Linked DNA regions of Homo sapiens. The gene in region 2 interacts genetically with the main gene of each other region. Each region holds a gene or a part of one and is shown on either strand. Other genes may lie near its edges. The genes, in order: TRNAU1AP, LUC7L3 and CEP295.

Region 1 (3,726 bases), on a different chromosome or scaffold from region 2:
CAATGGCGTGATCTCGGCTCACTGCAAGCTCCGCCTCCCATGTTCACGCCATTCTTCTGCCTCAGCCTCCAGAGTAGCTGGGACTACAGGCACCCACCACCATGCCCAGCTGATTTTTTGTATTTTATTTTTTTAGTAGAGACAGGGTTTCACCGTGTTAGCCAGGATGGTCTCGATCTTCTGACCTCATGATCCACCCGCCTCGGCCTCCCAAAGTGCTGGGATTACAGGCATGAGCCACCACGCCTGGCCTGTATTTTTTTTAAAGTGGAGACCTGGGTTTCGCTATGTTGGCCAGACTGGTCTCGAACTCCTGACCTCAGGTGATCCATCTGCTTCAGCCTCCCAAAGTGCTGGGATTACAAGTGTCAGCCACCACGCCCGGCTCTTCTTTTTTTTTTTTTTTTTGAGATGGAGTCTCGCTGTGTCTCCCAGGCTGGAATGCACTGGCACGATCTTGGCTCACTGCAACCTCGGCCTCCCAGGTTGAAGCGATTCTTCTGCTTCAGCCTCCCGAGCAGCTGTGACTACAGGCACGCACCACCATGCCTGGTTAATTTTTGTATTTTTAGTAGAGACAGGGTTTCACCATGTTGGCCAGGCTAGTCTTGAACTCCTGACCTCAGGTGATCCACCCGCCTGTCTCCCGAAGCGCTGGGATTACAGGCGTGAGCCACCGCACCCAGCCTGTGCTGAGCATTTTCTCAGGGTGATCTAATCAAACTGTCTAATAATTCCATGAAAGTGGTATCCACATTTACTGAAGAGGTAACCAGTTCAGTGAGATTTAACAACTTGCCCAAAGTCATGGCAGAAGCATGATTCAAAGCCACACCTGTTGCACTCTCAAAGCCTGAGCATATAACTACCATACTGACCAAGAATGAGCCTTTCTTGAGGTTCTTCGATTTCCATTTTTTCTTTTTTTTTTTATTTGAGACAGAATCTTGCTCTGTTACCCAGGCTGGAGCACAGTTGTGTGATCTCAGCTCACTGCAACCTCTGCCTCCCGGATTCAAGCAATTCTGCCTCAGCCTCCCGAGTAGCTGGGACTACAGGCGCATGCCACCATGCCCGGCTAACTTTTGTATTTTTTTAGTAGAGATGGGGTTTTGCCATGTTAGCCAGGCTGGTTTCAAAGTCCTGACCTCAGGTGATCCATCCACCTCAGCTTCCCAAAGTGCTGGGATTACAGGTGTGAGCCACCATGCCGGGCCAACTTTTTTTTTTTTTTTATGGAGACAGAGTCTGGCTCTGTTGCCCAGGCTGGAGTGCAGTGGCACAATCTTGGCTCATTGCAACCTCCGCCTTCCAGGTTAAAGCAATTATCCTACCTCAGCCTCCCAAGTAGCTGGGACTACAGGTGCACACCACCACATCCGGCTAATTTTTTGTATTTTAATAGAGACGGCATTTCACCGTGTTGCCCGGGCTGGTCTCCAACTCCTAAGCTCACGCAATCCACCCACCTGGGCCTCTCAAAGTGTTAGGATTACAGGCATGAGCCACCACGCCCAGCCTGAAGTGGAACACTTCTAACTACACTGAAAGGCTCAGTAACAATAACAAGCAAAACAGCAAACACCTATAAAGCATTTCAAATGTGACTTACTTATATTATATCCTTTAATCCTTACATCAACCCTACAAGCAGCTATTATTAATCAGCTCCATTTTACAGATGGGGCTGTAAGGGTCACAGAGCTTCAATTCTACAATACTGGCATTCTCCCTCACCTGTATTGGAGCTGGGATTTGAACCAGGCAGTTTGGCTCCAGAGCTTGTGGTCTTAATCGCCATGCTGCAGGGCCTTTCTAAAACACCTCCACTCAGGAGAGAAAGGCTGAAACTAACACAGTTAAGCATCAGTAACAAGTAAGGCCTTACTTAGACACGCCTGTCTGGTCCAAAACCACCTTGCCTCCCCGACAGGAGGGGTAGACTTTGACGAAGAATTCATACAGCATGCCATCATCCACGTCCGGGGTCAGGTCCCCCACAAAGAGGGAATACTCAGGGCTGAGGAGAGAGAACAAGAAGATTCAGAGGCAAAGACCAAAACCTCTGCTCTGAAAAGCTCTTTTGCATATTCCAGGTAAACCTCTCCCAGGCCCCTTAAGGAAAACATTTGATGGGTCTACTTAACCAGCCCCTACTTTGTTTCATCAGAGCAGTCCTGGCAGAAGAGTTAGGGAAATAGTCCCTGCCCCAAATCCCTCACCCACTCCACAGAACTTGTCTGACTTCAAGTATTACATGAGTGCAGATGTGTGGATGGGGTCAGAAGTGCATCTAAGGCACTCAAAAGATAAAACTGCATAAAAACAGCATAATAATGCATTCTGCATTCCTTGTATATTTTAAACATAAATGTTAAAAGACAGAAAAAAAAGAACTAGATCTTATCTTCTAAGGACGTAAAGCCTAGCGAAAATTAAATCCCCAATCTTTTTTTCTGAGATGGAGTTTTGCTCGTTGCCCAGGCTGGAGTGCAGTGGTGTGATCTGGGGTCACTTCAACTTCTGTCTCCCAGGTTCAAGTGATTCTCACACCTTAGCCTGCCGACCAGCTGGGATAACAGGTGCGCACCACCACGCCCAGCTAATCTTTTGTATTTTTAGCAGAGACGGGGTTTCGCCAAGTTGGCCACGCTGGTCTCAAATTCCTGACCTCAAATGATCCACCTGCCTCAGCCTCCCAAAGTGCTGGGATTACAGGTGTGAGCTACCATACCCAACCTCTTAAACCACTGCGAGCTTGTGGGTGATACAAATCAGGCCAAAGTTTACCAACTCCTATTATAGGAGGTCAATTCTATTAAAAAAATAAACGAACACACAAACCTTTGTTATTTTTTTTTTCTTTTTGTTGAAATGGAGTATCACTCTGTCACCTAGGCTGGAGTGCAGTGGCGTGATCTCGGCTCACTGCAACCTCTGCCTTCTGGGTTTAAGCGATTCTCTTGCCTCAGCCGCCCAAGTGGCTGGGACTACAGGCACATGCCACTACATCCAGCTAATTTCCTTTTTTTTTTTTTTGAGACGGAGTCTCGCTCTGTCCCCTAAGCTGGAGTGAAGTGGCGCAATCTCAGCTCACTGCAACCTCTGCTTCTCAGGTTCAAGCGATTCTCTTGCCTCAGCCTCCTGAGTAGCTGGGATTACAGGTGCCCGCCACTACGCCCAACTAATTTTTTGTATTTTTAGTAGAGACGGGGTTTCACCATGTTGGCCAGGCTGATCTCGAACTCCCGACCGCAGGTGATCCACCCTCCTCGGCCTCCCAAAGTGCCGGGATTACAGGTGTAAGCCACCACGCCCAGCCAATTTTTGTATTTTTAGTAGAGACGGGGTTTCTCTATGTTGGTCAGGCTGGCCTCAAACTCCTGACCTTGTGATCTGCCCGTCTCAGCCTCCCAAAGTGCTGGGATTACAGGCGTGAGCCACCGCACCCGGCCTACCTTTGTTATTATCTTATTTCAGGTATGATTATACATATTATACATATTCCTTGTATAATAAGAATACACAAGGCCAGGCGCAGTGGCTCATGCCTGTAATCCCAGCACTTTGGGAGACCGAAGCAGGTGGATCACAAGGTCAAGAGTTCAAAACCAGCCTGACCAAGATGGTGAAACCCCATCTCTACTAAAAATATAAAAATTAGCTGGGCGCATTGGCAGGTGCCTGTAATCCCAGCTACTTGGGAGGCTGAGGCAGGAGAATTGC
Region 2 (3,934 bases):
ATTACGAACCCAGGCAATCTGGCTTTAGAGACCATACCCTTAACTGTGCTAAAGCATTATCCCAACATACGTTGATATATTTGTGACTTTATTTCTTCAGCGATTATCTCCCCTCGCCAATGCACAGGTCTGCGGGAGCATGGACTGTCTGAAAGGTTCTGAGTTTAGCTTTAAGCACAGTGCCTGGCACATACCATTTGTTGAATAAATGGATCTACCTATCTATATATATGTGTGTGTGTGTGTGTGTATGTGTGTGTGTGTGTGTGTGTGTATATATATATATATATATATATATATTTTTTTTTTTTTTTTTTTTTTTTTTGAGATGGAGTTTTGCTCTTGTTGTCCAGACTGGAGTGCAATGGCGCGATCTCGGCTCACCGCGACCTCCGCCTCCCGGGTTCAAGCGATTCTCCAGCCTCAGCCCCCTGAGTAGTTGGGATTACAGGCATGCGCCACCACGCCAACCTAATTTTGTATTTTTAGTGGAGACGGGGTTTCTCCATGTTGGTCAGGCTGATCTCGAACTCCCGACCTCAGGTGATCCGCCCGCTTCGGCCTCCCAAAGTGCTGTGATTACAGGCGTGAGCCACCTCACCTGGCCTACTGGATCAATATCTTTTTAAAAAATTCCACACTGGGAGACATTTGGTGTAGGACTGAATCCCCGTATTTTAGAAGCCGCCTTGTCTCTTCTTGCCTCGATTTCCCATCCTGTTAATCAGGAGACTCAGGGCGGGAGGACAAAGCCAGGTGCAAGAGGCGTGAGCACAGCGACTAGGAAAATGGAGTCGGAAGCCGTAATCTTCAGTTTCCTCCGCTGCATGAGGCACCATGTGCACCACGTGGACTAAAGGAGACACTTTCTCCATTTTGAAGCGGTGTCCAGGCTTCAAGACCTAGGCTCCAATTTCTCACCGTGAAGAAGCTCGGGAAAACCGGGCGCTTGGGGAGGCGCGCGGGCAGAGGCTACCCGTCCCCGCGGCCTCTAGACAGGGGCGGAGTCCCTACCCGGCCTCCGCGGGCCCCGCCCCCGGACGGCGGAAGCCGAGCTCGCCCTCTCCGCCCGGGCCTGGGCGTGTCCCACGGGCGCACGGCATGCTGGGAAGGCGTCCGCGCGGCGGCCATTTTGTCTTGTCGGCTCCTGTGTGTAGGAGGGATTTCGGCCTGAGAGCGGGCCGAGGAGATTGGCGACGGTGTCGCCCGTGTTTTCGTTGGCGGGTGCCTGGGCTGGTGGGAACAGCCGCCCGAAGGAAGCACCATGATTTCGGCCGCGCAGTTGTTGGATGAGTTAATGGGCCGGGACCGAAACCTAGCCCCGGACGAGAAGCGCAGCAACGTGCGGTGGGACCACGAGAGCGTAAGTCCCGCGGGCCTTGGCCTGAGCCCGGGCTCCGTGGGGGAGGGGAGCGGGCGCGGGCTGTGGCCCTCCTGGCCGCGGCGCGATGTGGCCAGGGCCGCACCCGGGGTCGAGCGTCTGACCCGGTGCCCATGGAGCCAGGAGGGAGGATGCTGTCCGGACCCGGGGATGGGGGTGATTTGGTTTTGTTGTTCTAGTATCAAGGGGGTCCGGGAGAGCCCTTGGCATAATTGAAAAGCACCTTGATGAGGCGGGGAAACGCGGGAAAGAAGGATAGCAGCGTCTTATTAAATCTAGCGGCTCCGAGGTTTCACCTCATTATGAAATAGGGAGAAGGGCACATTTTTCTATAGTTTGGGTTGAACGTCGTATTTAGACTAAAATTTCTGACCAGGATTCATGGTAAAAATCGTGGCGGTATTTTATTTAAGTAATTACAGCATGACGCTTATACGGGGAAATAGAAATGTAAAAGAAGTCGTTTACTTGTTAGGGTTTACCGTGATGATTTACAAGTATTGTTCGTTAACAGTATTCTAAGAAGTCCCTTATAGAGGCAGCTGTCAAGGTTTTTTCTTCCACATAAAACTCATTTGATGCTCTTAGCCCGGGGAGTAAAGGTAAATATTATAACCCCAGTTTCACTGGTGAGACTTAAAAAGGCTCACCCAAAGTCTTGGCAACTGAGGAAACTAATCTTTGTAGTTCTGTTAGCTTTCCACAATCCTATGAAACTGGTTCTCTGCACCTACTGTAGCATTTCAAGTGTTTTGATCTAGTTTTGAACATGCAGTGTAATGTTTACTTTAGGTCTTATCTGGAGAATAGATACAGAATTTAATTTTACTTTGAGGTTATAATCTAACATGCTAATTTTAAAACAATTGCTAATCAAAATAGGAAGGAATAGTTCAGGTAATGCATGCTTCTTTAGAAAACTGTTTTCTTACTCTTTTTAAACGTAGGCTTTGGTTAAGGTAAAATTTCTTTTTTGCAGTGTAGGAAAGCAAGTTGGTGCTAGATGACTCCTTTTAGGACTTTAAGAAAGAGTAAGTTTGGCTCAAGTTGTGTTGGGGTGCTAACTGATTCCAAAGTAGTATGAAACATTCTTAGAGTAGAATTTATTGTTTTTAAGAGGTGGGTTTTTTGTTTTTAACATTTAGGCTCCCCATCCCCCCGACCATTTGTCACAATAGGAGACTAAGGAACTGCTTACCTTGACCATCTTTCTTTTGTAGGCATCTTTGTTATAGCGAAGTAACTTTTTTTTTTTTTAACTACCTGACTCTGTAACCTTTCAGTCTAAACTTTGCAAATGTGTTAGGAATAACGCTCAAAATCCTAAGTAAGGTAAAAAACCAAAACATTATGGCGATTTGGCTTATGTTCAATAGGTTATTTGTATATTTTGAATTCAAGAGAAAAATGCTTTCCATTGCACTCCTTATCAGTTGGAACAGCCTTGTATCTCTGCACCCTTGACTTTGAACACGTTTTAGAGAAACTGTTTTCTTTCCCGGGGTAATTTGTTGCCACATTGCATTGTATGTGATGGGTTTATGACTCTTCAATGATGAGGCCCTCAGAATAGCAATTTAGGTTTTATGTCATCTCAGCCGTAATCTGCTTTGCTTTCAGTTTTAGTACTTTTCACTAATTTTAACTTTCAGTGTTTATTACTAAAGTATTTAATGCCTTAATGACAGATTGCACTTCACTCTAGATTGAAGGATTTCAAGTCAGTTACTGGCATTTCAGATTGATATCTGCAGGGAAAATGTTGGTAGTGTTGAGCAAAAACAAAGCACATGGTCTCATCTAAATAGGTGGAATTATTGTATAATGAAGCTGGGGAAGCTGTTGATATCGTTTCCGGGTCATCTGCATATTCTTGTACTGTTGGCTGTTAGTGCTAAACCTGCAGGGATGGGCAAACCCATTATATGCTGAAAAGGAGTCACCTTTTCTATAGCCTAATATTTTAACATATTTTTGCATTCCTGTTCTATCTGGAAATTTTTCTTGGCCATACTTGCATTAAATGGAAGAAGCCATTTCAGCTGGATGGGGCCCTTGTTTTTTTTTTTGGAATAGAGATAAATACCAAAATAAGGAAAGGAAGCAACCATTAATTAAAAGACAGTTGCCGTGGCATCTGTAAGTATTTAACAGTCAAAATGCTAACTTTACCTAGTATTAAAGGTAGTCCCTAGATAGCTGTATTTGACCTGTGGAATTTGTTTTAAATGCATATTTCTGTACTTCAACCCCTTCAACTCCCCTTCCCAGAGAGTCAGATTCTGTCTGTCTTGGGGAAGGGTCCCAGTATCTGCATTTTTTATGGCTCCTCTTATGCATTCTTTTTTTTTTTTTTTTTTTTTTTTGAGACGGCGTCTTGCTCTGTCTCCCAGGCTGGAGTGCAATGGCGTGATTTTGGCTCATTGCACCCTCCGCCTCCCGGGTTCAAGCGATTCTCCTGCTTCAGCCTCCCCAGTAGCTGGAACTACAGGCGCCCTCCACCACGCCCAGCTAATTTTTATATTTTTAATAGAGATGGGGTTTCACCATGTT
Region 3 (3,726 bases), on a different chromosome or scaffold from region 2:
TAGGACTTAACTTTAAAGCATCTGCTGATCATGGGGGAAAAACTGAAGTTTTTGTTACACTGGAGTTACCTGAAAATAAGCGTTTATGAATATGTTCTTAATACTCCTTTTCTAGTGTTTACCTTAAAAATAAATTTATGATTTTTTTCCCTCAAAAATTCTAACAGTTGACCTTGACTTTCCAGAATTGGAACACATTTTTCCTAATTTGCATCATCAGCTGTTTAAACCCTTAGAACCACATCCAGATTTTGACTTATCATCATCATCCTCTGGGATTTCTCCAGACAACAGAGACTTTTACCAGGTATATTAAAGTAGATGTCCCATTGCAGTGAATATCTAAAAATAGTTTTAAGCCATTTCTTCTACTGGAACAAAAGTTCTTCTAAACCCTTACCTAGAATCACATGGAAGTCTGGGCACAGTGGCTCACACCTGTAATCCCAGCACTTTGAGAGCCCAAGGCGGGCAGATTACTTGAGGCCAAGAGTTCGAGACCAGCCTGGCCAACATGGCAAAACCCTGTCTCTACTGAAAATACAAAAATTAGCCAGGTGTCGTGGTGCGCACCTGTAGTCCCAGCTACTCGGGAGGCTGAGGTGGGAGGACCACTTGAGCCCAGGAGGTGGAGGCTGCAGTGAGCTGAGATCGTGCCACTACACTCCAGTCTGGGTGACAGAGCCAGACCCTGTCTTTAAAAAAAGAAACAAACAAACAAACAAAAAGAATCACATGGAAAACTTAAATAAAAAATAAAAATAAATCCTATTGTCCAGACTACACCCTAGACCAATTAAAGCAGAGTTTCTGGGAGTGCTCAGATAGTACTAATTATTATTATTATTTTTTAAGCTCCCCAAGTGATTCTAATGTGGAACCAACTTTGAAAACAGCTGCATTGGGCCGGGTGCGGTGGCTCATGCCTGTAATCCCAGCACTTTGGGAGTCTGAGGCAGGTGGATTGCTTGAGGCCAGGAGTTTGAGATCAGCCTGGCCAACATGGTGAAATCCCATCTCTACTAAAAAACACAAAAATTAGTTGGGTGTGATGGCATGCCTGTAGTCCCAGCTACTCGGGAGGCTGAGAACCGCTTGAACCTGGGAGGCAGAGGTTGCAGTGAGCCGAGATCGTGCCACTGCACTCCAGCCTGGACAACATAGTGAGACCCCATCTCAAAAAAAAAAAAAGGAAAACAGCTACATTAGAATTTTGTTTGTCCCATCCACCTGTCTCCACCTAGGGAGTATGATGCCATAAAAGGCTTAATAACAACTTTTAGTTGTGGAACATATTTAAACAGTAAAGTAAATACAATTTTGCAAAATTTAAAGTATCCTCCTACACAGTCAAAGGAGCTGAGATTTAAACCTGAGTCTTTTTGCTTCCACTTCCTGATGGCCTGACATTTTAAAGTCTCTTTCATATTGATTGAAAAGAACTGGATTTGAAAAAGCAAATCATTGCTGTCATAGTGAAGTGATAATTAAGGAAGAGTAATACCAAAGGAACACAATGATTATTGTTTCAATTGTTAATACCTAATCAGTATTTCAGCCTTTCCCTTTTGTTTCCTGCCAGAGATCAGATTCTTCATCTGAAAGCCACTGTGCTACTGGATTATCCAAAAGTACAGTTTATTTCACAGCACTGAGGAGGACCAGCATGCATTCTTCTCTTAACACAAGTCCGAATCAACAACCTGACACTAACTTGGCTCATGTTGGAGCTCACAGTTTTGCTACAGAAAATATTATTGGGGGTATGTATGACTAAGTTAGAAAAAGTTAATTTTTCCATGATTTTTTACATCCATTTCCTTAGAAATTAAGCCTAGCACCTCTTGGTTTGTCTTCACCCCTGCTCTCACCCCTATCCTGGGTGTTAAAAAATATTTAAATTACAGAAGTAATACATGCATTTTTTTAAACAATACTGAACATTATGAAATAAAAGGAAAAGTGTTGCCTCTTGTTCCTCAATTTCCCTACCTCAATCATTATGTGATAGTTAACAGTTTAAGTATTATTTTTTTGTTTGTTTTTTTTGTTTTTGTTTTTGTTTTTATTTTGTTTTTGAAGACTGAGTTTCACTCTTGTTGCCCAGGCTGGAGTGCAGTGGTGCAATCTTGGCTCACTGCAACCTCCGCCTGCTGGGTTCAAGTGATTCTCCTGCCTCACTCAGCCTCCCAAGTAGCTGGGATTACAGGCATGTGCCACCACACCCAGCTAATTTTCTATTTTTAGTATAGACAGGGTTTCACTATGTTGGTCAGGCTGGTCTAGAACTCCCGACCTCAGATGATCCACTCGTCTTGGCCTCCCAAAGTGCTGGGATTACAGGTGTGAGCCACCATGCCCAGCCAGTTTAAGTATTCTTCTTAGGCCAAGTATAGTGGCTCACGCCTGTAATCCTAGCACTTTGGGAAGCTGCGGCAGGAGGATCCCTGGAGCCCAGGAGTTCAAGACCAGCCTGGGCAACATAGAAAACAAGTATTCTTGAGCCTTTGGTACAAATGATTATATATACACACAAACATACATGAGATACACAAGGATGTACAAATTATATATACACACATGGATAATTGAGATACACATGGATGCTTTATTCTCTTTTCTGTTATTAAAGTCATATTCAGTTCTTATAGAGGAAAACATCCTCAGTTTATAGCCATATTGTCCTTATTAAATATTAATAGAAAAAGAAAAAATACTTGGTGTGAGCTGTAGTTTGAGAAATCACTGTGACCATCCTTATCTTTGTATTCATGTTTATACACATCAACTTTTATGCCTAAAATTGTAGGTTACTTGCAATTGGATGATAAACTATTAGAGACTGTCAGTATCCAACTTTTACAACATGTAACGATGATTAACTGATTTTTGAATTTCTTAATGCAGGATCTGAACAATGTTTTGAACAGCTTCAGCCAGAATATTCTTCACAGGAGGAGAGCCAGCATGCTGATCTACCAAGTATTTTTAGCATTGAAGCAAGAGATTCTTCCCAAGGCATGAAAAATCAGAACTATCCCTCTGAAGAACATACTGAAATATTACAAAACAAGAAAAAAATTGTTCATTTCCAGCTTTCTATAGGAAACTTAAGTTCAGTCTACAGTTCATCTGATGAAGCTAATGTATTTGATCAGTTAAATGTACAGCATAGCACTCCATGTGGTTCTAACTCTAGTGAGTGCTCAACAAAACACCAACTAGAAAGCAGAAAGGAAAGTATGGGCTTTGAAGAACTATCAAAAAGAGGGGTTGTTACAATGTTACAAAGTCAAGGACTCATTGAAGATAATAAAAATGAAACCTGTAGGGTTTTAGACATAAATCCACAGGTAGAGGAAACTGACTCTCGATTATGTGTAAGAACAGTGGAGATGGGAACTTCAATTCAGGCACCATATTCCTTAACTACTCAAAATGAAAAATATTTTGAGAATTCAGCTGAAACAGACATTCCAAAAATCACCAAAAAACTATCTCAACTAGGAGAATCAGAGCTTTTTGCAAGTTCTGGATCATTTTCATTACAGAGCTCTATACCAGTCTGGGTAAGTGAAATCAGTGTTGTATAAATAACATTTAAATTCCTTTTTGGGAAAAAACTTTTTTCTTCTAAAATTAGAGATGAAGTTCCCACTATGCTACCCAGGCTGAACTCAAACTCCTAGGATCAAGGGATCCTCCTGCCTCAACTTCCGAAGTAGT

What was found.
Region 1: changes in LUC7L3 (region 2) and TRNAU1AP together harm fitness more than expected from each alone (negative genetic interaction), as found in Homo sapiens cells (one large-scale study listed by BioGRID).
Region 3: changes in LUC7L3 (region 2) and CEP295 together harm fitness more than expected from each alone (negative genetic interaction), as found in Homo sapiens cells (one large-scale study listed by BioGRID).

The regions. Positions count from the first base shown.
Region 1 is NC_000001.11:28,562,997-28,566,722, reverse strand, and holds part of TRNAU1AP (tRNA selenocysteine 1-associated protein 1), read right to left. Parts: intron 2,021-3,726; coding exon 1,889-2,020; intron 1-1,888. UniProt on the Homo sapiens protein: Involved in the early steps of selenocysteine biosynthesis and tRNA(Sec) charging to the later steps resulting in the cotranslational incorporation of selenocysteine into selenoproteins. Stabilizes the SECISBP2, EEFSEC and tRNA(Sec) complex.
Region 2 is NC_000017.11:50,718,469-50,722,402, forward strand, and holds the start of LUC7L3 (luc7-like protein 3), read left to right. Parts: upstream 1-1,134; 5' UTR 1,135-1,264; coding exon 1,265-1,363; intron 1,364-3,934. UniProt on the Homo sapiens protein: Binds cAMP regulatory element DNA sequence. May play a role in RNA splicing.
Region 3 is NC_000011.10:93,724,069-93,727,794, forward strand, and holds part of CEP295 (centrosomal protein of 295 kDa), read left to right. Parts: intron 1-185; coding exon 186-307; intron 308-1,582; coding exon 1,583-1,763; intron 1,764-2,907; coding exon 2,908-3,569; intron 3,570-3,726. UniProt on the Homo sapiens protein: Centriole-enriched microtubule-binding protein involved in centriole biogenesis.